6 separate regions of the Homo sapiens genome follow, and all the other regions are reported to be linked to region 4. Evidence: microRNA targets listed by miRTarBase, many of them from high-throughput screens and not tested one by one. Region 4 holds a microRNA gene; each other region holds the end of a gene's coding sequence.
The links. The annotated mature microRNA hsa-miR-6792-3p reads CUCCUCCACAGCCCCUGCUCAU and lies in region 4 at 3,649-3,670, opposite strand. An mRNA with a match to its seed (bases 2 to 7 or 8) in the 3' UTR can be bound and repressed. Matches are read on the target gene's strand: a 7mer-m8 pairs with bases 2 to 8, a 7mer-A1 pairs with bases 2 to 7 and ends in A, and an 8mer does both.

Region 1 (5,071 bases), not on the chromosome of region 4:
TGGAAACACTCAACCTAAGCCCTGGATGCAGGAGGCAGGGATGCTGAGGATGTGAATTAGAGTGCTGGGATGTGCTAATGCCTAGGGAGGCATCAGGCACTGTGCTGGCTTGGGGGATCCTGTGATGACTGGAACCTGGGCCTTCATTACGGGCTCCGGTTTTGGAGTGCAGAGGGATTGGCATTTGTAAAGACTGCTTGCTTACCCTTTGTCTGGCATGCACATTCAGGATGTGACTTCAGCTTCATTCATCCTGGCCAAACAAAAAAAGTTCAAAAAATTGTTTTCAATTAAATTTCTGAAGATCTTTGTAGGGAAGCACCCTTCTGAGATGAAACCAATTTCTTGTCCACACAGCCACCATATCCTTATATAGATGGGGAAAAATCCAGAAAAGGGGGATTTTCAGCAGCTGGCTTGAAGCCCCTGAATGGTCCCTTGGCAGAGGCAAAGAATGAGCCCAGAGCCTGAGATTCAAGATGCTGGTCTCTTCTGAACACACCGTGGAGCAATGTGGTGCACCTGCAGATGCCGCACTCAGCAGCCTGGAATGCCAGCTCTCATGCCCTCACCTAGAAACGCCTTCTCGGCTGAATGGCTGTTGGCTCTCAGCAGCACCTGTCAGCATAGCTCGGCCGCTTCTGCCCCGTGCCAAGGCGTGACTAGGACCAGAAGAATCAGAAAGCATGGTGGAGTCCGAAAGCATTGGCAAAGCCAGCACATCTGTGAGCATGTTACACATGGGCTTGCCTAAGTATTTCCTTCTCTGTGAACATCACTTAGGAGCTACGTCAGTTAAGGCATCGTGAGACACAGGTGTGGTGGAGGCATTATGAGGGGACTACTCCACAGGACCTTGGAGAGTTGCATTTTGGGGGGCTCTCCTAGAAGCTCTGGGGGAAGGAAGCAGTGGCCTCCTGGTCAGCTACAGACACAGGCGGGTTAGGGCCCGTCTTGCTTTCATGTTCTTTTAAACACAAATGGCAGCTCACAAATATTCCTCTAAATATTCCTCCATACAGCCTAGGGCCCCTCAAGAGACGTGCAAACCAAAGTATTTGTTTTTCTCACTTTATCTTTAACCTAGTATGTGGCAAGTCTGGACCACTGCTTTAGAGAAAGCTGGATTAAATCTCTTGAGCAGAAGTAGAGACCCTAGAGAATCTTCACTGGATACCTTGCTTCACACTTTGGTCAATATTTATGAATAAGTTCTAAAGCCTATGCGAAGCCCATTCTGTTTTGCTTGGGGACCAGCCAGACCACTCCTCCACTCCAGTGGGGCCTTTTTTGTGTCTTTCACATCACTGTTACAAGTTGTGGCTGGACAATTAATGACATTTAAATCACTGTCCCACATATGGATATATTAGAAAAACCCTAATGTTTTAAAATTTTTTTAATCATCAGCTGCTTTTACAAAGCTTTGCATGCATTTGTTTAGAGGATATTGCAGTCGAGATATTCCAGTACTACTGTGTGATCATATGAAAAAAGTTGGTTTTCTCTCTGTCAAAGTCAATAGGGTGGTAGACTAACTCACAGAGTGCCTTACTTCTTCCTCCCGATTAATCGTGTTCACTATATGGTGGCAGAATCAGTCCAGTCCCCCAGACCTCAAGCTGCATCTTCCAAATGGTTGGTGTCTTTTTAAGAGTCCCCGTGGGCTGGCTTTCCTGGAAGAAGTCCATTAAATTCCCTGCTTCTATAAGCTGCAGGAGTCGCCTAGGATATGGCCCGTCACGTCTGGGGATGACCCTGCACTGCTCTCCAGATTTCACTCAAGGTTCGTATTTTTCTCTGCCACCTTGAACTACAGAACAGGCTCTCAGTAGCGTGATAAGCTTTAAGCTAGAATGAGATGGAAAGGTGGGAAAGACAGACAGGAAGTGTAGCTCTTAGTCTATGGGGCTCTCCTTAGGGGACAAAAAGATGGCTTAGGCTCCGTGGGTTTTCAACTCGTAGAAAAAATAACCCTGGGAACCAAAGCAGTTGTTGTGTGCTGAGGAGATGGTGACCTCCGTGTGACCTGAACATGGGTGAAGGTATTTGAGGAGGCGTGATGAGCTTCCGTCCAGGAGTACCCGTGGTTGTCTGTGTCATTAAGGGCGCAGGGTGTAAGGAAACCAGGTTCCCAGGCTGCATAACAAAATTGTTCTTCGTGGACAGGTCAAATGACTGATGAGAAAGAGGTCCAGATCTCTCCCCAGCACGCCACATTCTCTTTCGGCTCTAAGGCAATTCAAAACTTGGCGCTCACTTAGTTATTTCCTAAGAGATTTCTGCCTGCATTCCTCCAGCCTGGAACCCAAGGCCCTAGCAGGCAGGCTGTTTGCTTGCTTGTGTGTTGTGTGATACCAGAGCCAATTCAGAAGAAAATTGAATGTCTGTGGGCCCCCGGATCTATGTTTTTAGAACTTACTTAGATTACTTCTGTGTTGAATGGAAGAATGAAAATGAGAAAAATAACACATTTTTAGTACGACAAGAAAATTTCTGAGCATTTTTGAGAGTAGCAACATAGAGGCAGCTTTCTAGTCTTTCATCCTTGGCTTAGTGCTTTAGGATTCTTAAAGTGTGCTCTTTTACCCTTGACACACCCCAAGAGGTAGATATCGTCACCCCCATTTTGCAGATGGGGAAATGAGTCAGCAAGGAAAAGTGTCTCACCCAAATCCTACAGCCGATGAGCTGCAGAGTTCAGGTGAATGGCGTAACTCAGCATCACGGACCCCTCCGAGAGACTGGCCCGATAATCCAGGCGCAGGTCCACTAGGGCGTGCTCACAGACACGCAAGGCTACACACCATGCACACCTCCACTTCTCCAAGGACCCCTCTTGCCTAAGGTCACGTCCTGGGCTTTTGCCCACAGATCTCTGCACACGGTGCTTCATGCCCTGTGCAGGGTGGGCAGATGTGCTGGGCGCTCCCATCAAGCCTGCCTGCAGGGCCGCCAGCGAGTTAACTCAGGCCCTAGGCTCTGCAGTACGCTCTTCCCACAAGTCAGCCAGGATTTTTTCCCTTTTTCACTTCTGTGGATTCAAATAATTCATTTGTATCAACAAACAAACAATGCATTATTGTCCTGTAAGCAGAGGGAGCTTCTCTAGAGCTGTCTTGTAACTCCTTGGCTTACCTAGTTTGGTTGATAAACAATGACTAAATGAGCAAATAGCCAAAAACATAACTGCATAGAATAGGCCTTATAATGTGTGGCCAGTTTTTGTATAGAGCTGTTCATTCCTTCTCATGTTACCACAGCAACACAGGCAGCTTTTCTCAGCAACTTTCAGCTGCGCACCTGGAGAAAGACATATCCTTCCTAACTCATGCTCCAAATACCTATCGGTCCAAGTGCCATTGGTGTCTTGGCCTAAGATGATTTAATAGCTAGCATTTGTTCTGCAAAAATAGCACTGCTTTTAGTTTCTTCTTCTTTTGCATTTTTGGCACCTGTTGGCTGACAGCAGTCTGCAAAGGCCGCTGGAGATGCTACAGGGCAGAACTATTCCGTGGAGTAAAATGGGAGCAGACAGGAGCCCGGAAGGAAGGCAGAAGCCTGGGGGTTTTTTGTACATGGGATGTCGGCTCTGATTTGACCCTCATCAGAGCAGGACCTGGCTCCTTTAGGGCTGCAGACAAGCTCTACATGCTGGGAAGGGGCGAGGCATTTTATAAAGTGAAACTGCATTTTATCAGGGGTGACTTTGGCTGTCACTGCTGAGAGGAACAGTCGATGCAAGCTCATCTCACAAATCACTGCAGAATGCCCAGGCTGTACGTTCATGATGTTTGTGTTCAATTTCAAGATCCATTTCTTCAGGGAGTTGGGTCCATCTTCAAGACTTACGCCAGGAGACTGCACTGCAGAGACCGAGCGAAACTCTCCCTTGCTGTGTGCCAGGGACACGCTTCGTTGGTCTCCACGCACGTGCTTGCCATCTCTGCTCTCACAAATGCTCACGGGCTCCTGGACCTGTGTCTCCTGCCAGGAGCTGTGCTGGCCTGCCCACCCCTCTCAGCTGCCCACACCTCCGCGGCAGCTGCCTCCCGTGAGTAGGATCTGAAACACCAAAGCCACGGGCAAGGGCAGGATGGAGGGGCAGCGGTCCATGTCAACATACACCACAGATGACCCAGAAAAGCACTTTAATTTTTTTTTCTTGGAGGCATAATTTAGTCATCTCACCTAAAGCACTTTTCACTTTATCTCTGGCAACCAAGGGTTACAGAAAACTCAGCACCAAAGGATGAAAGGGGAACTTGTCCCCTTCGGTCCCCAGCCCTGCCCTCCCCTGCAGCCTAAAATACCCTTTCTATGATCACAGAACAAAGTTCACACTCACCACACAGCCATTCTCACACACACTCGCACAAAAAGAAAACCAAAGCCCACTAAAGCACATGGGGAAAAAAAGATTACAAAACATCTTCCTCCCCATCCGGCCTTGAGACCAGACTCCCTGGCTGGAGAGGTCGTGACTTCCGCCGTGCCCAGCAGGGGCTCACCCAGCCTTTGTCACCGTGTCCCACTAAGGAGGATATGCAGAGGCCACCAGTTCCCCAAGGTTCCCTTCGGATGGTGACACCTCCCTGAGTCAGTCATTCAGTTTCTGCTTGCTGTCAGAGTTGCCGTAGGCAGAGCCCTTGTCAATTTCCGTCACACCAATCATCCATCGAACTCCCACGGAGGCTGCAGAGACAAGGAGAGCAGAGTTAGGAGTAGCCCAAACAGACTACAGGGCCGTTTTCCCACAGAGCAAGTGAGAAGGCCCGTGGCCGCAAATCACAAGCGCCAGCTCAGAGCTGGCTGGCGGGTTTGAGGTGCCATCATCCTGCCGGCTTTACAATCATCCTTGAGTGTGGACATCCATGTGACATTAAGACAAAGCAAGGCTGCTCTGGTGGGGGTTTTCCTCCTTGGACCCTGAAGGTGAATGATTTGGCAAGCCATGCACAGCCGTTCGCAGGGACTCAGAGAAATCCCTGGCTTCCTCTGCTGACCCCCAGGTAAAGAGGATTCTTTTGTGAATAAGGGACAGGAAGTTAACAGGGCATGTTCAGCGAAG
Region 2 (5,066 bases), not on the chromosome of region 4:
GGGAAGGAATGCAGGGCTTGGCACACAGTATAGTTTCAACGAAAGCTGACTTTCTGACCCCTCTGTAATGTCCCAGCAAACAGAGCAAAAATGTAAGGCAAAAGATACCGCAGTAGGTGGCCAAAGGCTGGGCCAACTGAACCCTCCACCCGGAAAACCACACATGCCCTGGATTCACGCATCCATTGGCAACATGCACTGGGCTAACCAGGGCCAAGCCCCACATTGGAAGTTGGGGACAGAGGCTTAAGAGCCCTTGCCACTGCCTGCAGGACGTTCCCGGGCCTGTGGGAGGGGCATCTACTCAGTGGGGTCAGCGGCCTTGACGGAAGGCAGCAGCGGGCAGGGCAGGCCCCACGAGCTCCTAACCCACGCTGAGGCTGAGGCCCGGTGTCCTGAAGAAGCCGGCGCCGGAACTAAGTCTGAAAGGACAATAGATGACTAGGTGAAGCTGGAAGGAGTCTAGGCAGAGGACTGTCCACGCGCAAAAGTGCGGAAAGGAAAGAAAGCGGGCGAATGTGCTATGGAACACGAGGATGGGGGTGGTGTCTAAAGAAAAGTTAGGAGGGCATGGATGTCACAGGCAGGGCTGCGCAAAGACAACTCGCTGAAGTTGGCGATTGCATAGCCTAAACTAGAGGGAAATTCCTAGTCTCCGGGGTGCGCTCCAAGCCCGCCGCTGCAGAAACCTATTCCTCCAGCCCGGCGAGCAGAGGCGCAGCGACCGGCCCACATGCTCCTAGTGGGAGGCCGGTCCCTAGGCAACAGGCCCCGGCCCCGCCCGCAACTGCTGCCGTCGCGCCCTCTCCCGGCGGCGCCCTGCCAGGGCACCGGGGTCAGGGAATGACGGCTGGTTGCCTTCCAGAACATTATCCCGGCCATCTGGGATGAAGAGTGCTGCCCCTGGCGGCCAGTCTCTCGGCTTTCCATCCTTTTTCTGCCTGGACCTGGACGACCCCAAGCCCTCCAGGAACTGGGCTGGGCCAGCCAGTGAGGGAGAGGCTGGAGAGGCCAGCAGGCAGGTCCTTATTATTATTATTATTTTTGAGATGAGGTCTTGCTCTGTCACCCAGGCTGGAGTGCAGTGGTGTGATCACAGCTCACCGCAATCTCCACCTCCCAGGTTCAAGCGATTCTCCTGCCTCAGCCTCCCGAGTAGCTGGGATTACAGGTGTGAGCCACCATGTCCGGCTAATTTTTGTATTTTTAGTAGAGATGGGGTCTTGTCATGTTGGCTAGGCTGGTCTCGATCTCCTGACCTCAAGTGATCCGCCCACCTCGGCCTCCCAAAGTGCTGGGATTACAGGCGTGAGCCACCGTGTCCGGCCAGAGGGAGCAGGAAGGAGCCACGGAGGGCTTGTATGCAGAGCAGCAACATGAGCAGAACTGGTTTTTCAGTGCTCATGCTGTTGCTGCTGGAGGCCTGCCTGGAGGAGCTGGGCATTCAGGGATCATGGCTTGGGCTGCCTGGCAAAGCTGCGGGGAGCAGGGGTCTACCACCTACCAGGGGAAGTAACCGCAGTGAGCCCACAGGGGCAGGAAAGGGCAGGCTGGGTGCTCACAACTTGGGGTTCATACCGGGGAAAGGTAGGAAGGCAGGCCTTCCTGAAAACCAGTAAGCCAGGGGGCAGCACTGGGACAAGCCCCTGACCCCCAGTTGGTCTTTTCACCCCAGCAGGTGCCTCCAAGGCTCCAGGAAAGATGCCGACCAATTTCTGGAGATTCATCAGCTCACAGGCCTACAGGGGAAATGAGAAATCCTCCCATCCTGGAGTCGTGTGAGCATCAACCCCTCCAACAGGACATTACTCTTCTCCAAAGACCAAAGCCTCCTATCTCCCCACAGGCTAACTAAACAACCCATTTCCTTGCATTGGTCTGGAATAGTTGTGGTGTCCATGTGGCCACAGAGACTGTTTCATACTTCTGCGTGTGTGCTGACCAGAAACAGGAAAGCAGCTTTATTTGAGTAGTGCAACTTGGTTGGAAAATCTTTCAAAATGTGGAGTCTAAGATAAAACTTCAAGTGTTATGAAAAAGTAAGGTTACCAGCCAGGTGCGGTGGCTCACGCCTGTAATCCCAACACTTTCGGAGGCCGAGGCGGGCAGATCACAAGGTCAAGAGATCGAGACCATCCTGGCTAACATGGTGAAACCCTGTCTCTACTAAAAATACAAAAAAATAAATAAATAAAATAAAAATTAGCCGGACGTGGTGGTGGGCGCCTATAGTCCCAGCTACTCAGGAGGCTGAAGCAGGAGAATGGCGTGAATCCGGGAGGCGGAGCTTGCAGTGAGCCGAGATCGCACCACTGCACTCCAGCCTGGGCGACAGGGCGAGACTCCGTCTCAAAAAAAAAAAAGAAAAAAAGAAAAAGAAAAAGTAAGGTTACCAATCCAGCCCCACCCTGCTGTACTGGCAGGTCAGGGGTTCAGTTAGGGCATGGTGATTGATGTCAAGTGCAACCAAAAGGCATGTCTTCTCCCACCCTCTCAGGGTCCTGCAGCACTGTGGTCCCCAAGGGGAAGACCAGCACTGGGGTAAGTGATAGCTTCAGCCCCCAAGCCAGGGTAGTCCCAAATCACCGCATCATCCTGTCCAGGCTGACACCAGTGCTGACCTGCAGACCTCAGGCCTCAGCATGCGTGGTCTGCCCTGCTGAAAACACTCTTATGTCTGTATAGCAGTAACTGAAAAGTTCTTGTGACAGTGCCTGCCTCCAGTGCCTTCCAACAAAGCCCAGGCCCTAGGCCCCAGCCACCACACTGACGTAAGAGAATAGTTAGGGTATCACTTCTCAATGATCCCCCCACTACCTATCCCAGGACTTAGGAGGATGCCTGGACACCTCTGCCCACAGGCAAAAAAGGAAGTAAAGTTGACCTGTTCTCTTGGGTGCCAGCCCTTCCCTGGACAGAGAACAGGACACTGCCCTGACCATGGAATCCTTCACACCAGGTCCCCATCCTCCTCTGCATCCTTACTGGGAGTACTCATCTCTTTCTTCTCTGCCTAACTCATTATTGCCCCTTATGTTGTGGTTGAGGCCCTGACTCCTGCAGAAGGCTTTCTCTGACCACTCCCACAGCCTCCCTACCTCTCTGTTCTAGTATGAATCCCCTAAGACTCTCTGTCTCTCCCACTAGATGTCATGTTCCTCATGGGCAGAGCTGGGAACTGTCAAGTTCTGAATCTAGTAGAAACACAGGATGTTTTCTAAATGAAGGTATAAATGCAACCAATGGAAGAAGCCGAGGACCCTAAAACAGAATTGGTTCAAGTTCTGTTTTTTTAAATGCATGTTCCTATGCAGGGACTATGGAAGGAGCTGGAGGAAGGAAACTAAGACATCTTTACATTTTGTGTGTCTACATCAGATTTCCTTAAAAGGTCTCCATTGCTTAAAATAACAACAGTAATAATAAAGAAGTCTACTAGCCTGGCCCAATCCCCTCACTTGATAAAGAAAGGGGAGGTAGAACAGGGAGGGCAGGAACTAAAAATAGGAACTAAGCAAGTGCAGACAAGGCCAGCCACAGGCCACAAACCAAGGCCCCCAATCTCCCCAACTCAGGCTCCTGCCAACCCTACCTTCCACCAGGATCAAAGGGAGAATAAGCCTTCCACAAGGATTTCCATTGCTCATTTTATTTCAATAGCCAACTGTCCTCACAGAAGAAACTGTTCATGTCACAGGTGATCAGAAGCACCATTCTATTCCCTAGGGACTGCATCAGTGCTTATGAACAGCCTACTTTTTAAAGTTGGCAATCACTATAAAAACATCAAATAGTCAAACTAATAAATTTTTTAAAACCAGTGCCCATAATGGCTGAAACTTTATGGAGGGGGAATGAAGTAGCCCCAGCAGCCAGGATGCTTGCTAGTAAAACCCCTTAGAGGAGGGGCAAGGGGCTGTGGCCAGGAAGATGTGGGGGACAGAGCAGCAAGGCAGGATGCTGCAGAACCTGCTGTCAACGACCCTGGTCCTGGCTGCTGGCTCCAGCCACCTGGATGAACTGGAATCTTGATGTCTGTGGTGCCCCCAGCAACCTGGAGGACCAGGCAAAGGCAGCAGAAGGCTGAAATAGATGGTGCCTCCTGTCCTAGAGTGGGGCCTGAGGAAATCAAATACTGCCTCTGGGGCTTGTTCCAATAAATGGTAGTGTAACCCAAGGACAGTTAAATTCATTCCTAAATGGGAGCTTCTCCCAGCGCCCACTCCTCAGAGCCCTGGCCCTCCCCTGGTAATAGCTTCCTCCACACTCTTCTTCAACTGTACAGCGCAGGATTGAAACTTAGAAATTGCTCTCCTTCCTCCTATCTTAAACTGGGAATCAGTTGCCATCTATGCTATCAACCTCCTTCCTCCCTACATATCACTGAATGAAGACAAGAAAACTGTTGCTGTTGCCCCCCAGTGCCCCACTCTGCTGGCCAGGAGGGCGGGCCTGGGGCCTAGTCGGACTGCTCCTGAGACGATGGCTGGCTGGGCTCACCCGACAGTACCTCTGCATCCTGGTCATCTGTGAAGGACAAAGAAGGTAGCTGGATTTAGAAAGAGCGAAAATTACAACTACCTATTTGCAGATGAAGATTTTCTTTTTTCTTATTTTATTTTAATTTTTTTGAGACAGAGTCTCGCTCTGTCACCCAGGCTGGAGTGCAGTGGTGTAATCTCAGCTCACCGCAACCTCCACCTCCCAGGTTCAAGCAATTCTCCTGCCTCGGCCTCCTGAGTAGCTGGGATTACAGGCACCCGCCAACATGCCCAGTTAATTTTTGTATTTTTAGTAGAGACAGGGTTGCCCCATGTTGGCCAGGCTGGTCTTGAACTCCTGACCTCAGGTGATCCACCCACCTCACCCTCCCCAAAGTGCTGGGATCACAGGTGTGAGTCACTGTGCCCAGCCCAGATACAGATTTTCCATAAGCCTTTCTCATCATTCCCAGCCCTAGGGGAGAATGTATTTTCTTTAACTTGTTAGGCGCCAGGAGCCTGGAATCCTAGCCTTGGCCATGTGATTCAGATTCAAGTTCCAGCTCTTGCTCTGCTCGTCACAAG
Region 3 (5,060 bases), not on the chromosome of region 4:
ACCAAAGCGATCTGGAGCCATTCATCAGGATAAGTACACACTAGTATAGGAGATACCCAAACTTTTCAAACATTGTTAAATATGAGGTCTGAGCTAATACTGACACCAGGAAAACCTAAATCTGCCATGATTCTTTGGTAAGAATGGGACTTCCATCGGACAAGTGAAACATGGAGACTCCTAGGCTTGAGTCTTTTATACTCTGGAACTGTTTTTCTAGTTCTTTGTTGTATAAATGGAATAAACATTCTAAGCACCTGGTAGAACCTTCCTGTGGCTTTGAAACTTTTGTAACAGCTCGTTACATTTATAGGCCTGTGCATTTTACTCTCTCTATGTCGTGATCCTGATGGTAAATGTACACAATGATATGAGACCATGAAAGCAGTAGGTCAGCTGGCCACAGGCAGGTACATTGAGATTAAAAAAACTGCTGGACATGGTGGCACTTGCCTATAGTTCCAATTACTCAGGAGGGTGAGATGGGAGGATCACTTGAACCCAAGAGTTTGCGTCCAGCCTGGACAACATAGCAAGACTCTATCTCTTAAAAAAATAAAAACAGTCCAGGCACGGTGGCTCATGCCTGTAATCCCAGCACTTTGGGAGGCTGAGATGGGCAGATCATGAGGTCAGGAGCTCGAGACCATCCTGGCTAACATGGTGAAACCCCATCTCTACTAAAAATACAAAAAAATTAGCCAGGTGTGGTGGTGGGCACCTGTAGTCCCAGCTGCTAGGGAGGCTGAAGCAGGAGAATGGCATGAACCTGGGAGGCGGAGCTTGCAGTGAGCTGAGACCATGCCACTGCACTCCAGCATGGGTGACAGAGTGACACTCTGTCTCAAAAAATAAATAAATAAATGAATGAATAAATAAATAAAAAGACCGGGCACGGTGGCTCACACCTATAATCTCAGCACTTTGGAAGGCTGAGGCAGGTGGATTGCTTGAGGTGAAGAGCTCAAGACCAGCCTGACCAACATGGTAAAACACTGTCTCTACTAAAAATATAAAAATTAGCTGGGTGTGGTGGCATGCACCTGTAGTCCCAGTTACTCGGGAGGCTGAGGCAGGAGAATCACTGGAACCCAGGAGGTGGAGGTTATAGTGAGCCGAGATCATGCCACTGCACTCCAGGCTGGGTGACAAAGTGAGACTCCATCTCGAAAAAAATAATAAATGAATAAATAAATAAATAAATAAAAATAAAAAGAGGGCAGTGTGGTGGCTCATACTTGTAATCCCAGCACTTTGAGAGGCCAGAGTGAGAGGATCACTTGAGGCCAGAAGTTTAAGACCAACCCAGGTCACATAGTGAAACCCCATCCCTACAAAATAATTTTAAAAGATATTAACTAGGCATGGTAGTAAGTGCCTGTAGCCCCAGCTACTGGGGAGGCTGAAACAGGGGAATCACTTGAGCCCAGGAGTTCAGGGCTGCAGTGAGCAATGATCACGCCACTGCATTCCAGCCTGGGTGACAGAGCAAGACCCTGTCTCTAAAAAAAAAAAAAGAAGGAGGATATGGTGAATGAAAACATCTAAAGGGCAATTACAAGTTTGTTGGGTGGGAAAGAAAAAAGATACTGAGACAGAGGGTATAGTGTGGACCAAGGCACAGAGGTATGAAAATTCATGGATATTCTGTGAAGAATAAGAGCTAGCATTCTTTACAGATCATCTCTTTGTTTTTTTTGTTTTTTTTTTTTTTTTAAACAGCCTCATACTGTTGCCCAAAGTGGCACAATCAGAGCTCATTGCAGCCTCACCTCCTGGGCTCAGGTGATCCTCCCACCTCAGCCACCTGAGTAGTTGGAACTACAGATGTGCACCACCACGCCTGGCTACTTTTCTTTCTTTTTGTAGAGACATCTTGCTATGTTGCCCAGGCTAGTCTTGAACTCCTGGACTCAAGTGATCCTCCTGCTTCAGCTTCCCAAAGTGCTGGGATTACAGGCATAAGCCACCATGCCTGGCCTGAACATCTCCACAATAAATGTTTTCCACATACAGTTCTTCTTCATAGAACGTGTCTCTCAATACAATGCTTTCCCACCAATATTTATATTGTAAAAATATTTATGTCCCCTAAACATAAGAAATTCTTTAACCAAGTGATGAGGGGAGTCAATGGACAAAGTCTTTAGGTTTATTCCACATATGATTAGTAGCAAATCAGCGTTCACAGAAGACAATCGGAAAGGCTCTGAATGTTAACTAAGGGGACGTGCAGCATGTTATACAGACAAAGCAACCATTATATTAACTGCTGAGTGATCAGGAAGTACTGTTTTAAATATCTTATATCCTTATTTTACTACAATTAAATAAATAAATACAAAATATTTTGTTTAAATTTTTACACCCTAATGTGTTTTTTCCTTATATACAGGCATTTTACTATGTTTTATGTTTTAAGAAGTTGGTTGAAGATTTTGGGTTGAGACATAATGCATTAAAATTTTTCGCACTTAAAATAATGGGAATGAGGCACCTGGTTAATGTTTTCTTGCCAAGGTTGTTACATGGATGATGCCTGTATTTCTGTATGTCAGGGGTCAGAGGGGGCAGAGGTCGACCTTGAATGACCTGTGAAGGAGCCTGGACTTCAGATGGTAGTGAGTCAGAGGTTTCTATGCACAGCAGTGACACGTGGACATGTGTGTGTGTTGTCAACAGGCTTGACATGAGTTCGAATCAAGTTTTATTTCAGTTAGTTGCAAACAGCCCTGATTGTTTTTAGCTTCTCTGGGACCTGGCAGATTGGTGAGGGCTCATTATTGGGGATTTAGATGTGATATTCCAGTCTTAAGTCCTTATTAACTATATTAGACCCTGATAAGAAAGAGGGGAAAGGAGCTTTTTTGAGAGGATATAAGTGTACAAGGGAAAGGATTTTGTCTGTTTTATTCACTGTTGAATCCTAGCCCCTAGAATAGTCCTGGAGTATACTGGAACTCAGTATCTGCCTAATTGAATCAAGTTGAGATTCAGTCTTTTTGCAAGTTGAGTTTCCTGTTTCCTGTCTCCTGTCTGTCTAGAGTGGTCAGCACCGTGCTGTCCTCATCCATCTTGCTCCCTCACTAGCTCTGCTCCTGATCCTGGGGCTTGGTGCATGCACAAGTTGGGGACCTGGTCCACGGTCCTGACCACCATGCCTGGGTGTGTGCTGGAAGGAAAACACGTCTTCTTCCTCGGAAGGAGTTCCATTCTCCTGCCTGGGAATCTGTGTCCGACTGCTCTGACCCTTCTCCCATGCCCAGAAAGAGCAGGAGCAATTGCTTCACACAGCAGTGGAGCCCAACACTGCAGCAATCCATGCAGATAAAGCCCAGGATAGGAGTACTGGCCTCTAAGGACCTCCAGCACAGGCCCACAGCTGCATCCCACACCCAGCAGAGAGCCTGTGATCAATACAGATTTGTTGAATGAAAGAAAGAGAGAATGGAGGGTCTCTCCTTTGGGTCTATATCAGTTTTAAAATATTTTAAAGAGCATATTTTCTGGATCCTTGAGAAGTTTTCTCAAACAGAAGAATCTCTAGTGATGCTACTGATAGCCATAAGCAGGCAGAATGGAGTGTTGTGCGGCCTGGTGCTGCCCTGCCCCCGGGAATACGGAACTCAGTCTTTCTAATGGGACTGCCCTACCAGTGTCTCTCTGTTCCTTTTGTTATGGTGCAGGGTCAGGTGGGGTAAGAACCCCTGCAGGCCTTGGCAGAGAGGGTTTCTGGCTTCCTCTCTATACTGGCAATGAGATTGATCTGCCAAATTCTTCTCACAGGCTGGGCAGGAACCTAGTTACAGGTTCCCACACTGCCCTTCTTCCAGGGGACGCCTTACAACTCATTTTAGTTCTACAATCAGTCTTGGAAAGCACATTCATTCATTTATTCCCTACCATTTACCCTGCACCATCCCAGGTTCTGGATATACTGTAGAGAGAAAACCAGGTTCACCTCCTGCCTGTGTCCCTGCTCCCCACATCCCCACTAAGTCCTGCTAGATCACTTCCACCTCTGGTGTGCCTTGCAACCTTGAGACTTCTCCAGAGAAATGGGGATGCTCAGCCACATGTGCTCAGACCCTTCCTCCAAACTGGGCATGTACTCAATGGACTGTGCTAACTTCAATTGCTAAGACAGAGGCCAGCAGCAAATTGAACAGTTGTCTATTTTTGTTTTATTAGAACACAACATAACATTAAATAAATACTAATTTACCAAATTCTTAACCATTTCATAAATACTATTAAGTTAACAGACATTTTACAGAATGTTAAGTTAAATAAGAAAAAAGTATATCAATTTTGCCTGGAGGAAAATACTTCAATGATTCTGATATCTGAAATATATTTTAAGAATTTTATGCTTTCTGGCAAAGTGTCAGTATGCCTGAAATATTTACTTTCCCTCTGAAGTTAAATTATACTGAAAATTAAGGCCTGACTCTTTCTTGGCCCTCATTCTCACTGCAGTAAAATGTCCTTCTCCTCCAAAATCTTTGGCTGCAACAAACCAGTTTAGTCTCAACTTTCTATTATCCACTCGGTGTTCATTACACCAAGAAACTCTTGCAGGTAGTCTAGGAATTGGTTTACTCTCCGTCTTTCTTCTCCACACTTTTTCTGTGAAAAAAGAAAAATGACAATAGGTATTACAGGAAACTGTCAATTCCATAGAAATAGGCACAGCCAGACAAATATAGCTTCCATTGAATGTGTGTAACTTACTTTTTGGCCGTCAATGTATTTCTTTATTAAGGACAAGTTTTTGAATAGTCTTTCCACAGTACCCCCTTGCACAGTTTGACTCTCCAGTGTGCCTATTCCCTGAAAGATTTCTTCAGTGCACAGTTGGTGCTAAATGAGGAAAATTTTTAAAATGCAAATAATCAAGACAAGGTATAAAAATTTGGTCCATTGTCCATTCTGCAATGTATACATACTTCAAAACATCATATTGTACACAATAAATATATATACTTTTTAATTCATCAATTAAAAAATAATTATTAAAACAATTTTGGTCCACAAAGTTAGGCTTTGTTTTGTGGTAT
Region 4 (5,071 bases):
CAAAATATGCCAAGAGTGAGGCGGGCAGAGGGCATGGGGGGGGTGGCGGGCGGGCTGGGTTTCTGACTGGCCCCGGCTGACCGTGCTCCCCTCTCCCCGCCTACCCCGCCCAGCCTTGTACCTGCTGTACGCACAGCTGGAGGAGGAGTGGGGCCTGGCCCGGCATGCCATGGCCGTGTACGAGCGTGCCACCAGGGCCGTGGAGCCCGCCCAGCAGTATGACATGTTCAACATCTACATCAAGCGGGCGGCCGAGATCTATGGGGTCACCCACACCCGCGGCATCTACCAGAAGGCCATTGAGGTACCCACCGTGGGGGGCTGGGCCGGGGCCAGAGGTCCCTGAGCAGACGGAAGGGGTCCAGGCAGGTGGGAGGGGCTGAGGAGGAGCCTTCTGGAAGCACAGGGATGGCCATGGTGTGTTGGGAGCCCCCGAGCTACCCCGGCCTCACTCCCGGCCTCCCCAACCCCGGTGTCCAGGTGCTGTCGGACGAGCACGCGCGTGAGATGTGCCTGCGGTTTGCAGACATGGAGTGCAAGCTCGGGGAGATTGACCGCGCCCGGGCCATCTACAGCTTCTGCTCCCAGATCTGTGACCCCCGGGTAGGGCTGTGGGGAGGGACGGGTATCAGGGTTGGGGGCTGCGGCGGAGTCAGCCAGCTCACGGGCACACACACCCACCCCTGCCCTGCCCCCCACGCAGACGACCGGCGCGTTCTGGCAGACGTGGAAGGACTTTGAGGTCCGGCATGGCAATGAGGACACCATCAAGGAAATGCTGCGTATCCGGCGCAGCGTGCAGGCCACGTACAACACGCAGGTCAACTTCATGGCCTCGCAGATGCTCAAGGTCTCGGGCAGTGCCACGGGCACCGGTGAGCCGTCCCAGCTGGCTGAGTTCCTGATCCAGGGCATCTCAGCCCGGCCTGACCTGGGCTTTCCGGGTCTGGGAGCCTCGGATCCTGATGGCAATCTCCTTGAGGGCTGGGCCATCACCTGGGGGACTGGGATAGTGCAACGTCCGATGTGTGGGAGGGGCCCCCGTGGCGCTGACCCCCTGCTCCCACCCCCTAGTGTCTGACCTGGCCCCTGGGCAGAGTGGCATGGACGACATGAAGCTGCTGGAACAGCGGGCAGAGCAGCTGGCGGCTGAGGCGGAGCGTGACCAGCCCTTGCGCGCCCAGAGCAAGATCCTGTTCGTGAGGTGAGGGCGGATCCTTGGACGGGACAGGACTGGGACAGGTCCCAAGGGGGCCCGGGGTGGGGAACTGAGGCAGCATGGCCCGTCCCTAGGAGTGACGCCTCCCGGGAGGAGCTGGCAGAGCTGGCACAGCAGGTCAACCCCGAGGAGATCCAGCTGGGCGAGGACGAGGACGAGGACGAGATGGACCTGGAGCCCAACGGTGAGGGCCCGGCTGGGGCGGGGACGGTGGCATTACCAGGGTGGGCCTCGGGGGACAGGCCAACGCCAGGAGGGTGACTGGCTCCCGCCTTCCCCACAGAGGTTCGGCTGGAGCAGCAGAGCGTGCCAGCCGCAGTGTTTGGGAGCCTGAAGGAAGACTGACCCGTCCCTCCCCCATCCCCCCTCCCCACCCCCTCCCCAATACAGCTACGTTTGTACATCATGGTCTGAGCCTCCTTCCTGCTGCCCAGGTGCCCGAGGGAGTACAGCTCAGGAGTGCCTGGCCCTGGGCCGGGATTGGCTGCTGTGGGAGGTGGGGCGGCTGGGCCCCAGGCCAGATACTGCCCGGCCTCACCCCGCAGAGCCAGTTCTGGACTCGAGAGGCCAGTCCCTCCGCTGCCTGGGGCCTTGGAGTGGGTCCTGCCCGGAAACTTCCTTGAGCCTCTGTAGCCTGGGAAGGGCAATCCAGCCCCTGGCTGCCCAGGTCTCGCCAGCCCCTGCCTCTCAGAGCCCTTCTGTGGCCCCAGGCAGCTGCCGCCTCCCTGGGGTGGCACCCACTGTCTGTTCCCCACTAGGGACTGGCCCTTGCCCTCAAGTCTTGGAGTCAGGCAGGCTCTGGCCCAGCTCTGGGAACTGATTAGTAACGCGTTTCTGTGCCTGGACGGGGGCCAGGCGCCAGACCTTGTGCACGGCCCAGGACCAGGGCGTGGTCCTTAGTCCTAAGCCTGGGAAGCCATTAGCGGGCTGTAGGCTATTAAGGGGTTTTAAGTATCAAGGGATATAATCAGATTTGTGCTTCGAACGGGTCACACAGGCTGCTGTGTGGGCAGGAGGCAGCTGGGGACATGGGGAGGCCCAGGCCATTGGCTTGGACTTTGCAGGGAGGTGACAGGGCTGGAGAGAAGCGAGTGAGACAGGAGGGGAGGGCTGAGCTGTGTAGAACTGGGCGGCAGCTGGGAAGCCAGTGCCAGCCTGGGTTGCAGGGCAGGCCTTGCATCTGAGAGAGACACCCAGGCAATGGCAGGGGGCAACTGGATTGTCAAACACAGATCTCAGAGAAACCTGGAATCACTGGCCCAGAGGTAGATGCCAGGCCTGGAAACACCAGGCTGGCCAGGGGAGACAAGATCAAGTTAGAAGTTGGCCCCATGCCAAACGCTGGTTAGGGCCAGTAACAACAGCCACACAGACCAGGAGAATCCAGCAAGCGGGGGTGGCCAAGGCCACAGGAAGGGCCAGTGGGACACCTCGAGCCTGAGAGATCAGTTCAGAGGCAGCTTCGAAACAGCCCTGGCTGGGGGCTGGGAGTGCCCTGGCTGAAGCTGCATTAGGGGATTATGGGGGTTGAAGACAGGAGTTGGTTTGAGAAAGAACAGGAGACTAAAAACACAGCCAGGGAGTGTGGGACCCCGGCCAGCCTCGGAGGGGGGGACAAGGTTCAACTTCTCTTTAAATTATTTTATTCAAGAAGTGGGGGAGGACAGACAAGGGGACTGAGCTGAGCCCTGAGTCCCTGAACCTCCCAGCTCAGCCCCCACAGCAGGACTGGACTCAAAGTCAGAGGGTGGAGACTCCAGCCCCACCCAGACACGGTTGGGGACAGACAGGACCCAGGAATACCGACTGACTGTCCTCCAGGGGATGGCGGCCGCAGCACACAGGGCCCGGCCCGTGGACCGCCCGGGTGGGGCTATTTGGGGGTGCCGCCGCCCTTCTTGGGAGTGGTGGGTTTCTTGCCCTGCCAGAGGTGTCCCTGGATGGTGAAGGCATCGACGCTCATGGACATGGTCTTGGCGGGGATCTGGGTGAAGCGCTTGCGGTCCGAGTTGTACTTGTAGATGCCTTCCACCATGGCGGGCGTGACGGTCCGGGGCCCATACCCTGCCAGCCGCGACAGCTCCTCTGTCTCCCCCGACAGCGTGTAGAGCGCCCGGAACTGGCAGCTCGAGTCGCGAAAGAGGATCAGGAAGTGGTTGGCCTTGCTTTTCTCAATTTCCTGGGCAGGAGTGCTGGAAATGGTCAGCTGGCCAAGTCAGGCCACCCACCCACCCACCAGCCCCCAACTCCCACGTGTGGGCGGGCTCACCTCCAGAATGCGATTCTTCTGCGGTTCGTTCACCTTGCCCGCCAGGCAGCAGTGTGATAGGGCATTGTGGATGATGAACTTGTTGGACTTGGCGCTGGGTTCTTTGTACAGCCGTGGACCTAGAGGGTGAGGCAGTGGGAGGGGGTGGGGGGCAGCAGGAATGAGCAGGGGCTGTGGAGGAGGGTGCCTGTTGCTCCTCACATCACCCAGAGCCCCTGCTTACCTGTGTACTCGGGCACTGACGCTGGGGAGGAGGCATTGCTGCCATTTTCCCAGTCCCGTTCGCGGCTTCCAGGCAGGCGGCTTGGGGACATGAGACCTGACGGGGAGGGAGCCCTGCAGTGGGAGAAGGATGGGATGGAGGTGGGGTCAGGATGGGATGGAGGTGGGGTCAGAGATGGGAAGCTTCCCTATGTGCAGAGGGGCCAAGGAAAATAAGGGCCACGGCTGGGCATCGTGGCTCATGCCTGTAATCCCAGCACTTCGGGAGGCCAAAGCGGGCAGATCACTTGAGGTCGGGAGTTCGAGGCCAGCCTGGCCAACATGGTGAAACACCGTCTCTACAGGCACGGGTAACCCCAGCTACTCAGGAGGCTGAGGCACGAGAATCACTTGCACCCAGGGGGCGGAGGTTGCCGTGAGCCAAGATTGCGCCACTGCACTCCAGCCTGGGCGACACAGCAAGACTCCCTCTCAAAAAAACAAAAAAAAAAAAAAAAAAAAAAAAGGCGGGCCACACACACTGCAGAGGAGGCGGTATACACTGCACACCCTCCCAAGTCCATGCAGTGCCCCGTGCTGTCCTCCTCCCACAGGAACACCTGGCACTCAAGTGCACTGAGGCACATGCTTGAGTCCTGTCTGCCAGGTACAGACTATGCCCCATGCACACGTGCCCACACGCGTCCCTCCATCTCTTCATGGCGTATCCATAAACTCGAGCCATACCGCCCTCTAGGTTCACCCAGATGCCCACACACCTCCCAGGCTCTGGGAAGCCACCCGGCATACGAACCCCGCCTGTGCGGGCTAAACTCACCGAGACGTGGGCCTCTTCACCCCGAGGTTATTGTGGGCCTCGTTGGCCACAGTGGACAGTGACAGGGTGGACTGGGAATAGATTTTGCTCAGCCGAGAGCCTGGGGACAGAGATTGCAGGTCAGTGCCCACCAGAAGCCCCTGCCCTCCACAACACCCGGTCCAGCAGGCTGTGGGGGGAACACAGGAGGAGTCAGTCCTGCCCAAGACCCCTCGGCCCTCTGCAGCACCCCTATGGGGGGACCCCTCTATGAGGGAGGATGCTTTGCCCAGCAGGCAAGTGGGGAGCAGCACTGGGTCAGCCCCTACTGGCAACGCCTCACCCCAAACATACTCCCAAAGGTTCCTATCCATGAAGCCACAGAAGAAAGACCCCTCATCCCACTGCACCCCACATCCCTATGGAAGTCTTTTTTTTTTTTTTTTGTCTTATTTCTGAGACGGAGTCTCGCTCTGTTGCCCAGGCTGGAGTACAGTGGTGCAATCTTGGCTCACCGCAACCTCCACCTCCCAGGCTCAAGCGATTCTCCTGCCTCAGTCTCCCA
Region 5 (5,071 bases), not on the chromosome of region 4:
AAGAGCGTGCCTGTTCCTCTCCAAGAGGCTCCCCAGCAGAGACCTGTGGTCCCACCCCGCAGACCACCTCCCCCAAAGAAAACCTCTTCGTCATCCAGGCCGCTCCCAGAGGTCAGAGGTCCACAGTGTGAAGGCCACGAAAGCAGGGCAGCTCCCACCCCAGGCCGTGCTCTCCTCGTCCCTCCAAAAGCCAAACCTTTTCTCTCCAACTCTTTGGGGGGCCAGGATGACACGCGAGGCAAAGGCAGCCTGGGGCCATGGGGGACCGGCAAGATTGGAGAAAACAGGGAGAAAGCAGCTGCAGCCTCTGTCCCCAATGCCGACGGCCTGAAGGACTCTTTGTATGTGGCCGTGGCCGACTTTGAAGGAGACAAAGACACCAGCAGCTTCCAGGAAGGGACAGTGTTTGAAGTCCGGGAGAAGAACAGCAGTGGCTGGTGGTTCTGCCAGGTCCTGAGCGGAGCCCCTTCCTGGGAAGGGTGGATTCCTTCCAACTATCTCAGAAAGAAGCCGTAGCCGACTCCCTTTCTGCCTAGAGGGCCCGCTGGTCCTTGCTGGCTTTACCCACGTATTTAATACGCCTCTTAATTTATCATTCTCCACGCAGCTTCCAAGGCAGACAGACTCTGGGGTACTGTGACTTCTTGCCTCCCATGGGTGGAGAGTGAGTTTCGGACACCTCGGGCGCCCCTGGGCCTGATCCCTCCTATCACAGCATCACTGGAGGCTCAGAACCCACAGCCTTTGCTTTCTGTCCATGTCAGCATCCCTGCCTTAAGAGAACTCCTCCTGGCCAATGGCATTGCCACCCAGCAGTGGGACCAAGACTCTCCAAGACCTCCAGGACTGGATCCCATTGCCTGGAGAAACTCCAGCAAGGGTCTCTCATGGCTTGGACATGGCACAGTAAGGGGCAGCCAACCCAGTCCATGATGACTTTTGCTCCAACTTCTTCATGTTTCTAAAAGCCCAGTGGCTTTATTCACTCCTCCTAAATTGCCTGCTACCAGAAGGAACTTCATCCTGAAGAAATGCATTCCATTACCAGTTCCAGGGAAAGTGTCCCCTTCCCCAAAGCCTCAGGCCCGTGGGCCTCTGAGGTTCCACTGGATGCGGCTCCCCCAGGAGTGGGCCTGGAGATCCGCTCAGCCGCCCTGCCTCCCACCTTCTATCTTGGGACCGTGGTCAGCCCTGAAGGGTGGTTCCAGCCCCGCGTATGCTGCGCTTTGCTGCTGCAGGCTCCGGTCCCTCCAGGGCTTTTCAATGAGAGTTCCCACCCCAACTTGGAGCATTTCATTTTTGCCTACCTAAAGCAAGAATCTCAAAGTTTGTTTGAATAAGAGGCCCATTCACAAGTCGTGCCCTTGTGAGCACCCCTTTGCTGAGTGCCTCGTGGGTGCCAAACACTGTACTTGGCGCTTTGCATTCATGCTTTGACCCTCACAACCTCCCTTTATAGATGAGGAAATTCACGCTCCATGTGCCCAAGGACACACCAGCCAGGAGGAAGAGGGAAGAGGATTTGAGTCCAGGCCTGCCTGACTTCAGTGCCTGTGCCCTCCCCTCTGTAAAAGACAAACCAGGCAGGGAAGAGATAGAAGCTGGCTAAGTGGTGGCCAAGTGGCTTCATTGTGAGGGGGGTGAGGGGGCATTCGTGGCTGCTCCCACACCCACCATCCCTCCAGCCCACAGCAGCCTATACCAAAGGCTGCCCTGGACTCAACAGCTGCATCTCCATGACAGGAGAATGCCAGGGTCCTGGTGGTTGACACAGAGCCCTGTTCCCTCTTCTAAGCTGTTGCCCCCTGGGGAATAGAGCTTATGGAGCAACGGGAGCTGAGGTGGCCTCGAGGGCCAGCCTGGAGGGCTCTGAGCATAGCATGCAGCGGTCCCATAGGGAGGCAGGTAACCAAGGGCCAGGCAGAGCTGCTTCCTGTGCCTCTCCGGCATTTGTAATGTTTTTTTCTTTTTTCACGCACTGCCAAATCTGTTTTCTCCCTTGAAGAAACCCAGGGCAGATGTGGTCATCTGTCAAACTGAGGTCTGGAGAGGCATGACTAAATCACTGCAGAAGCAAAATCAGGACCCAGCATTTCTAGCTCCCAGCCCAGAGTAAGAGAGCAGAGCAGAACCCCTTCCCATTCTACCCGACCGAGGCAGCCCTGCCCTGCCCTGCCCCGCCCCTCCCCACCCTGCCCTGCCCCAGAGATCTCCAGTTCACAGTGTTCATCAGGCGAGATACTTTTGGACCCACAAAGCCAGTTTTTTGGGGGGATGCTCAGTGTCTACCTGCAGTGCCAAAGTTTTGCTTGAACAGCCCTCTTCTGCCGCGCCTCCCAGCTCCACCCCCTATCACGTGGGTGCTGGCTGCTTCTGCGTGAGGAGCTTCCTCTGATCACCTGTAGCATCTTTAGTGCCTTCGTCCAGTCGGCCTGCAAATCCCATTTCCCAGAGAGGCTTGGGCAGGGCCCACTTGCCACTTGGCCCTGTGCCCAGAGCGTTGGGGGCAGATGGCAGCCAGGGGAAGAAGGGAGGTGGGGAAGGGCCGCCACCGCTTGAGGGTCCCCTCCCTTGAGAGGAGGCCCCATGGCAGTTTTCCTGAGTTCTTGATCCACTTTGGTTTAAACAACTTTTGTGAAGCTATGTGAGATTTGACTGCATTTCAAAAGACAAAACACATGTTTTTTTCTGATTTGCTCTTTGCCTTTCAGCGACGCTTTCAGATACTTTGTGAGTGTCTACTCTGTGCTAGGTGCTGAGTAGACTGGGATGTGTGTGGCTCCATCCCTGGCTGGAAGAGCTTTGAGTCCTGTCTGCTGACTTCACTGAAGGAGTTTCTCTCTTGCTTCATTCCTTCCTCCCGGGGGTCAGCTGGGTAGGAGCAGACTTGCCCTGCCTTCCTCTAGGCAGAAAGTTTTCCTGCAAATGAAAGAATCTGCCATTCTCTTTTGCTATGATGATGATGATTATTCTGACATGACCCGCGGGTACTGAAGCCACAGTCCTCTCTGTTCACTGTTCTCTCCTTGAGTCATATCTATGGCCTGAGGACGTCTGTATCCAGCTCCTTTTCCTACAATGGTAGACACTTCCCCAGGCAGTGGGTGGGTCAGGGTGGCCAGTCACTCTCCTAGCTGTCCTTGCCTGGGGACTTAGATTTACCCCATCCAGGACTGTGGTCGCTATTCTGTGAGCGATTGATGGCGCATATGCAGAACTCCCCTGGAGTCATGGCTCTAGAAAGTGTCCAGGCCCATCGTGACAATGGTGCCAAGCACCGGGCTGGTGACCAGTGCCTAAACACACACGCTCCTTTAATCCTTACGGCAAGCCTGTGAGGCGGATAGGACCAGCCCTGATCTATAGTGAGAAAATTAAGGTTCAGAGGGAGAAGGTCCAAATAGTGGCCAAGCTGGGACTGAGATCTCGAGTTTGGGTTTGTTTGGTTTTGTTGTTGTTGTTCTTTCCCTCGTGTCCATGACTTTTCTCTGCCATTAGCAGGGAAGTGTGCGGAGGGCTTCCAGGGAATCAAGTGACCCTCCCTCTGAATTTCGGTGCCTCTTCCCCCCGCCCCTTGCTCACACATTTCAGTAGGTCACAGGCCAAATGGCAGCCCAAAAGGTGGGCAGAGATTTTTTTTTCTTCCCCTCACCCCTGCTTATTAACACAATTGTGACAACTACTTTACCTTACATCCCAGGGCAAACGGACAGCTTGCGGTACCTCCAAAAATTTGGAAAACCCTGAGTCTAAGACCACCTCTTGATAAAAGAGGCCTTTGCTCACATGTTCTGCTCGGAATCTTTCTTTGCCATTGGTGGGTGTATGTCGTCCCAGCTGAGACTGCGGGAGAGCTGAGCTCCAGCTTAAACCGCTTTTAATGGCCCTTCCCTACTGGGGGATCGCTGGAGCCCATGCCAGGTTACGGTAGTCATTTTAAACCTCTGCCACAAGGCCACGCCATAGAATCAATTTCCAAGTCAATGTTCTTGGCCCTAAAATGTTTGCGCCCACTGAGGATTTCATTACCAGGTGGAAGATGGGGGAACATATGCCACGTTAAAGAGCAAGTGCTGAGTGTGCCAGGACTTGAGAAGGACCTTAGGCTGAGGAGTGGACAGTCTGGTATTTATTTCGCCTCTCCCAAGTACCCAGCACAGAGTGGGAAAAAGAAGAAACTGCTCCTGCCTTCCAGTAGCTGGCAACTTGACATCAAGAACAAAAACATTCGTAGCTGGACCCCCGTCCTTTCATCGTGCCCAAGTCTTACATGTTGGCTTAAGCTGCCCCCTTGGAGGCCGTACCTTTCTCTTTGGACTGTGACAGTGGACACCTAACAGCCTGAGCCATGTGTGGCTGTCTTATCCCCCAAGGGTTGTCCAGGCCCGTTCTGCAGGGCTGTTGTGTAGACTGCAGACATCCATACCTCACCACAGACCAAAGATGACCTCGTGTCAGACTGTGGGCTGATGAGAGGTAGAGCAGCATGCATCGAGGCCTGAGGGTGCAGGGCGCCCTCTCTTGGCCTGGAGGAATTGCTCCTAACTAGAGTAAGTTTCCACGAGGGTCCCAGGCAGAGCTGCAGAGCTGGAACCGGAGGCTCCACAGTCCTTGCCTGCTCATGGACCTCCTTCAGAGCACCTTTCTACAGACTGGACTGCCCAGCTCCGTGGGGTGGCATCTGGTTTCTGGTGCTATTCTGCCAAGTTATCGAGCTCCTCCTCATGTTTCAACATTCCATCTTCCCGTTTCTATCCTCGACTCCAAAGTAAGCCTTCTTAGCTCCAATCAGGGATGAGGGGCTCAACCTCTTCTGTCCTCAAAGAGGCCAAACGCAGTGCCACAGTCGGTAGCCTTCACTTTTAGATGTCCTATTCATGTAAAAAAGAAGGTGCCCCCACCAGGCTTACATCAGCAATAAGCAATTCTAATGCAACGATGGTGTCCACATTTTACCCCAGTGTGTGCCCATGTATGCCTTTGTGCCCGTGTAATTATTGTTAGCGCCCCTTTCACTTAGAGGGGTGATGATAAACTGTGGCCACCTTGATTACAACCCACATTTCCTGCT
Region 6 (5,057 bases), not on the chromosome of region 4:
AATCTCCTTGCTATAGCTATTAGCTTGATGATATTATTTTCAGCTGCACTGCTTAAGCTCAAAATTTGAAATCTGCAAATGTGCTATCTTTCTAAGTTCAATTTTACCATTGTAGATCATGATGTCATAGCAATTTCCTGAGTACCCATTTTCAGATTCATCATCACATTGGTGACATTGTGGAAAAACAGCCTAGGATCTCTCGAGAACAACTAACTGATCCCTCTCCTTCCCTACCCTCGTCCCAGGCCCCTACCATTGATATCCGCCCAAGATCAGCAACCATTCAAATGAATAATGCTACACACCTTCAAGAGAGAGATGAAGAGTACGGCTATGAGTGTCTGGACGGCAAGGACTGTGCCAGTTTTTTCTGCTGTTTTGAAGATTGTCGAACAGGAGCTTGGAGACATGGGAGGATACATATCCGCATTGCCAAAATGGACTCCTATGCTCGGATCTTCTTCCCCACTGCCTTCTGCCTGTTTAATCTGGTCTATTGGGTCTCCTACCTCTACCTGTGAGGAGGTATGGGTTTTACTGATATGGTTCTTATTCACTGAGTCTCATGGAGAGATGTCTGTTCTAAGTCCACTTAAATAATCCTCTATGTGGTTGATAATGATCTGAATCTGTTTCTATGTCCAAACCTGGTAAATTTTATAATGTCATATTGTTTGTGCCCAGCCCTCCTTTGGTTAGTGTACTTTGAACTTCGATGTTTGCTGTGTTTCAAACCTGCAAGGCAAAGTAAAATTAGAGCAAGAACATTCAAACCAAATAAGATATTTTTCAGCTACAGCAAATAAAACAGTGAAAGCCCTGACTATTTACAGTAGTGGTATCCTTACTAGATTCATAATGCAATTAGATAGAAAAGGTCCAAAACTGTACCCTATGTTCACTCCGGGTCAAGTTGTGATAAATTTGATCCCAATAGAATACCTCCCTCATTTAAGAAAAATCATAACTCACTTTAAATATGAAAGCCTAGTCCAGAAATCTATTACACCTTTATCTCAAGATAGGAAGAAAATTTCCTCCACATTCATGTACAATGATGTAAATATTTCAATAACTTAGAATGCTTCAAGTTTAGTGCATGCATCTCTTTAGATCCAAAATAAATGGACTGAAGTTATCATCCTATTGTCTTTTATTTTGTGTCCTTGGGCTATAAAAGATTCCTGAATGTAATTATAAGGATTTGGGTTTGGAAATGGAGGGAGGAATTTTCATTGCCTTCTCCCTCATGCATGAAGATTCGAACAGCTTATTTTTTCCTTGTATGACATATTACAACACTTTAAGTAAAATATAGACTGGATAATCAACATTTGCCACCTCTAAATATGCCCAATTTCATAACTAGAGTATAAAGTAATTGTATGTGCTTGCCGCTATTTTTTTCTTCCTTTTAGGATGATAGATCATAACAGAACTTATTCTCCATCTCAAGATCTGCTTCTAGTGATTGTGAGTGCCTTGTGGGCAGAATCCTTGTCATTTCCTCTTTGGGTCTGTAGCACCTTGCATAGTGCCTGGCATATAGTTGGTGCTCAATAAATATGGTTTGAAGTGAATTGCCCTCACATGCTTCTGGCAAATCTCTGTGCTGGCCTGAAACCAGTGACTCATCTTCTCACATAGGTGTTGTCAAGTGATATTTGATTTTGTAAAAATAACCAGTAGGATCCAAAGAACTTTAGCTATTTATGTTCATCTTCAAAAAATTATTTTAGGCAAAGTCCATACTCCTTTTAAAACAATATTTATGTCCTATGTTTGTGTATAGACATGACTCTACTAGGGCATAATTAGAGTTTGTGTATTATTTTTCCAGGTTTGGGGATGAGTCAGTCCTTGCCCATCCACAATTTTGTTTGTGAACTTATAACAGGAATAAGCAAAATTCATACCTGACTAGTGTTCAGAATGTAGCATTCTGTGCGAAAAAGTATTGAAGATTAGCTTTTAAAAACTGAAAAAAAAAAATGAATGACTCACATAGAGGTTGAGCCAATGACTGTGGCCTCATTAGATTACATTGTAGTTAAACAAAGCAATTTCTCCAGACTTAAAACATGATGAGTTGAGCTCTATCTTCATGTACTCATCCTGAATCCTTATTTTTCTAAAATAGCACCCTTTGTTAATTATTTTTATGGAAATTATTACTCTGTCATAATTAAATCATAGCTAGTATAACTTTACAGATAACCTAAAAAGAATAGAAAAGAAGAGAGAGTGGCTTTGTCAGTATAAAACCATGTAAAGTCATCATCAAGTCATCTGGATGAATCTTGAAACACATTTAGCTGCCAGTTTTACAAACCTTTAATATATCAGTGCTCCAGTATATAACCTCAAACAAATGTAAATAGAACGAATTATTTTCTTGTTTTGAATTGTCAATATATTAAATGTTGACTCTTTGGGAGAGTTGTTGGCAAGTTTCAATGGTGAGAAACATTATTGTCAACTTGAAATGTGTTCTGTAATGGGGACACTACAAAAAGCTAGCTTTCCAATGTGTGCATAGTATTGGCAATATGAATATATATTATATATAATCTAATACTTATTATAAGCTGCTCCCTGTCTATGTATTTGGAAACCTTTTCACAAAGGGAATTGCCTAACATGTGGACTTTTACAATAAAAATGCTGCATTCTAATCCATGGTGGCATCTCAGTAGTCTGGTGGGACTGTTTGTCTTAGAGATTGTGACCTCTCTTTCCTGCCTCATTTCCCCAAATCCCCTCTCAGTGAGCTTTATCTGTGAGCTGTGTGACTGTGTTTTGCATGGCGGTACTCTTCACCTCAAAAAAATTAAGAGAGGCATGTGGGTTGTAGAGTGAAGAAGAAAGGCAGACATGTAATAAAGTAAGTAAAAATTCAAGTCTTCTCTACCTCAAGAATTTCGGTGTGGTTAACATTAATTCCAGTGCCAGACAAAGTTGGGATCCCAGCTTTACTATTTACCAGTTGTTAGACAATTGTCAATTCAGACTTTAGAATCCTCCATTAAAAATAATTTATGTATTTGTTTATTTGTTTAGAGATGGGGTGTCCCTCTGTCACTCAGTCTGAAGTATAGTGGCACAGTCATAGCTCACTGAAGCCTCAAACTTCTGAGCTAAAGCATTCCTCCTGCCTCAGCCTCCTGAATAGCTGGAACTACAGATGCATGCCACCATGCCCAGCTAGAAGTCTCCATTTTAGCAGCTATAAATTAGATATACCAATGCTAACCTATGTAGTGACACTCAACAAATGGTCAAAAGCTCTCTCCCTCACTTCCGATGCCTTCCATGCACTGCTGTCATGCTCCCTTCATCCTATCAAACTAGCTTCCCTAATAGAATCCAGCATTAGGCATATAAGCCTTTAAGTGACTCTACATCACTCTATTTTTATTTTTAGGAAATATTTGCATTGCAAGTCTTTTAAACTATATGTGGGAAATTTCTGTCTCATTGGAAAAAAACTTACACATTACATTAGTTATTTTTAAGGCCAAAGAACTGTTATTTGTACCCTCAAAATTTACAAACATACAAAGTTGATTAGCCCTACTCCAGAGACAATGTCATGTTTTCTTGAACTCTTTTGAAATTCTCCCAGGAATATAATATTATCTTCACAACACAGCTGCCCTAACCATCCTTGGCCCCATTCTCTTGGCCCCTCATATCTTCCTGCATCTAATTTAATCATCTATTTCTCACCTTCCAAACCTATAAAAATATAGTTTTCACTTAGATGTTGTCTGCTGTCTAACTCAATGCCCTGAACTTTAGCTGAATTCATATCTTTATATGGCCTTCATTCCTTGCATTAAGTCTCAATATTATTCTGACTAGTAGCAAAAATTTTTGTCTGCAATGAAGGTCAAATTAAGTTAACAAAATGATGTGGTCTTCAGGGATTATGTCAAAAATTGCTATCTCTATGCTTTGTCACTATGAATCTTTGTCAAAGGTGTAGAATATGGGGGAATGACGTAGACCAAGAGCTCGGCTATGTTTTCTAGTGCTCAGTGAACTGCCAAAGGTCACACAGCTAGTTAATGACAGATCAGGGGGTCATCTAAGCATTGCTCTTTCCACTGTGTCTCACAGTATTTCAGAATTTAGAAGTAAAATTCTGGAATACTTTATCTTTCTGTTAATATTTTAGGATCTGCCAAACTGCAGGATGCTTTCCTTCTTTGATCTAAGCCTCACTTTGACTCATTTTATTGCAATGAGACAGGAATTTGAGAATACCTAGTAACAGAGGGAAGTCAATGGGTTTTGTATTTATTTTATTCCTTCTCATGTGAAATGACCAATTGATATTTAATATTACCCATACTGCTTTCAGAATGCTGTTTCAAAGAAACATCTAAACAACTCCAGACCTAGAGTTAGCCTTTGTCCTTTGGGATATGTGGCAGTAGACAACCAAAAAGTTTCCATGGCTAGGATCTGCAGGCTCATTCTTTCTACTATTTAAGCAAAGTGGTGGGGAATGACCTAACTATTATGATTCTTTCTAAGGTTACAGATTATAAGCCAATTGCAAAATCCAGTTGTAACTTTCTTTTGCCACATTTTGGATAATAAAGAAATAGTTTCCTCTAATTATGGTTTGTGTAACTAATTGGAAAAGCAGAGGCTCTTGCTCCAGATTAACTAGGTTCAAATATCAGCCCTGTCAACTTTTGTCTGCCTTAGTTTTCTCACCTGAAAAATGGAGATAATATTGGTGTGTATCTCAGACTTTATTATAAGGAGAAACTTAGTTAATACCAAAGAATTACTGGATGCTAGTAATTTTCCTCAGTAAGGATATAAAGTTTCAGAAAATACAGGGTACAAGAACCATATCTACTTTGCTTAAAAATATTGATCATCATTTGTGAGGACTCTCTTTTCTCATAAAAAAAAAAGTCACTGGACCGGGGATAGAAATTTCATTTAACATCTGGGGATTTCCAAATATTCCTATCTTGATGATATTCAGTTTCTTACGTAAACAAGGGAATTTGGCCCCTTTTTCTCCAGCAGAT

Region 1: miRTarBase lists AGPAT4 as a target of hsa-miR-6792-3p. Seed matches in the 3' UTR shown: 7mer-A1 at 4,434-4,440, 8mer at 2,292-2,299, 7mer-A1 at 1,559-1,565, 7mer-m8 at 1,267-1,273 and 8mer at 1,010-1,017.
Region 2: miRTarBase lists DMRTB1 as a target of hsa-miR-6792-3p. Seed matches in the 3' UTR shown: 7mer-A1 at 4,367-4,373, 7mer-A1 at 4,316-4,322 and 8mer at 4,257-4,264.
Region 3: miRTarBase lists IL5 as a target of hsa-miR-6792-3p. Seed matches in the 3' UTR shown: 7mer-m8 at 4,493-4,499.
Region 5: miRTarBase lists SH3PXD2B as a target of hsa-miR-6792-3p. Seed matches in the 3' UTR shown: 7mer-A1 at 1,503-1,509 and 8mer at 4,528-4,535.
Region 6: the mRNA of GABRG2 is a reported target of hsa-miR-6792-3p. Seed matches in the 3' UTR shown: 7mer-A1 at 1,226-1,232.

The regions. Positions count from the first base shown.
Region 1 is chr6:161,131,940-161,137,010 of GRCh38, forward strand. It overlaps AGPAT4 (1-acylglycerol-3-phosphate O-acyltransferase 4), which reads right to left. Exons shown (of 9, transcript NM_020133.3): 9 at 1-4,695. The coding sequence ends at 4,601. Among named protein-coding and RNA genes, the nearest start is that of AGPAT4-IT1, 28 kb to the right of the region's middle. RefSeq lists a silencer at 1-232.
Region 2 is chr1:53,466,056-53,471,121 of GRCh38, reverse strand. DMRTB1 (DMRT like family B with proline rich C-terminal 1) reads right to left here. Exons shown (of 4, transcript NM_033067.3): 4 at 3,634-4,527. The coding sequence ends at 4,460. Among named protein-coding and RNA genes, the nearest start is that of DMRTB1, 9.2 kb to the right of the region's middle. RefSeq lists enhancers at 881-1,418, 1,419-1,958.
Region 3 is chr5:132,537,281-132,542,340 of GRCh38, forward strand. It overlaps IL5 (interleukin 5), which reads right to left. Exons shown (of 4, transcript NM_000879.3): 3 at 4,735-4,863; 4 at 4,165-4,629. The coding sequence ends at 4,531. Among named protein-coding and RNA genes, the nearest start is that of IL5, 3.7 kb to the right of the region's middle.
Region 4 is chr19:7,616,079-7,621,149 of GRCh38, reverse strand. It overlaps MIR6792 (microRNA 6792), which reads right to left and starts at 3,711; the gene lies at 3,645-3,711. CAMSAP3 (calmodulin regulated spectrin associated protein family member 3) reads right to left here. Exons shown (of 17, transcript NM_020902.2): 14 at 4,528-4,627; 15 at 3,712-3,824; 16 at 3,489-3,607; 17 at 2,846-3,398. The coding sequence ends at 3,093. It overlaps XAB2 (XPA binding protein 2), which reads left to right. Exons shown (of 19, transcript NM_020196.3): 13 at 1-15; 14 at 114-304; 15 at 481-603; 16 at 704-875; 17 at 1,075-1,204; 18 at 1,294-1,403; 19 at 1,503-1,625. The coding sequence ends at 1,564.
Region 5 is chr5:172,333,814-172,338,884 of GRCh38, reverse strand. SH3PXD2B (SH3 and PX domains 2B) reads left to right here. Exons shown (of 13, transcript NM_001017995.3): 13 at 1-5,071. The coding sequence ends at 516. Among named protein-coding and RNA genes, the nearest start is that of UBTD2, 53 kb to the right of the region's middle. RefSeq lists an enhancer at 2,127-2,988.
Region 6 is chr5:162,152,845-162,157,901 of GRCh38, forward strand. GABRG2 (gamma-aminobutyric acid type A receptor subunit gamma2) reads left to right here. Exons shown (of 10, transcript NM_198904.4): 10 at 249-2,682. The coding sequence ends at 524. Among named protein-coding and RNA genes, the nearest start is that of GABRG2, 88 kb to the left of the region's middle.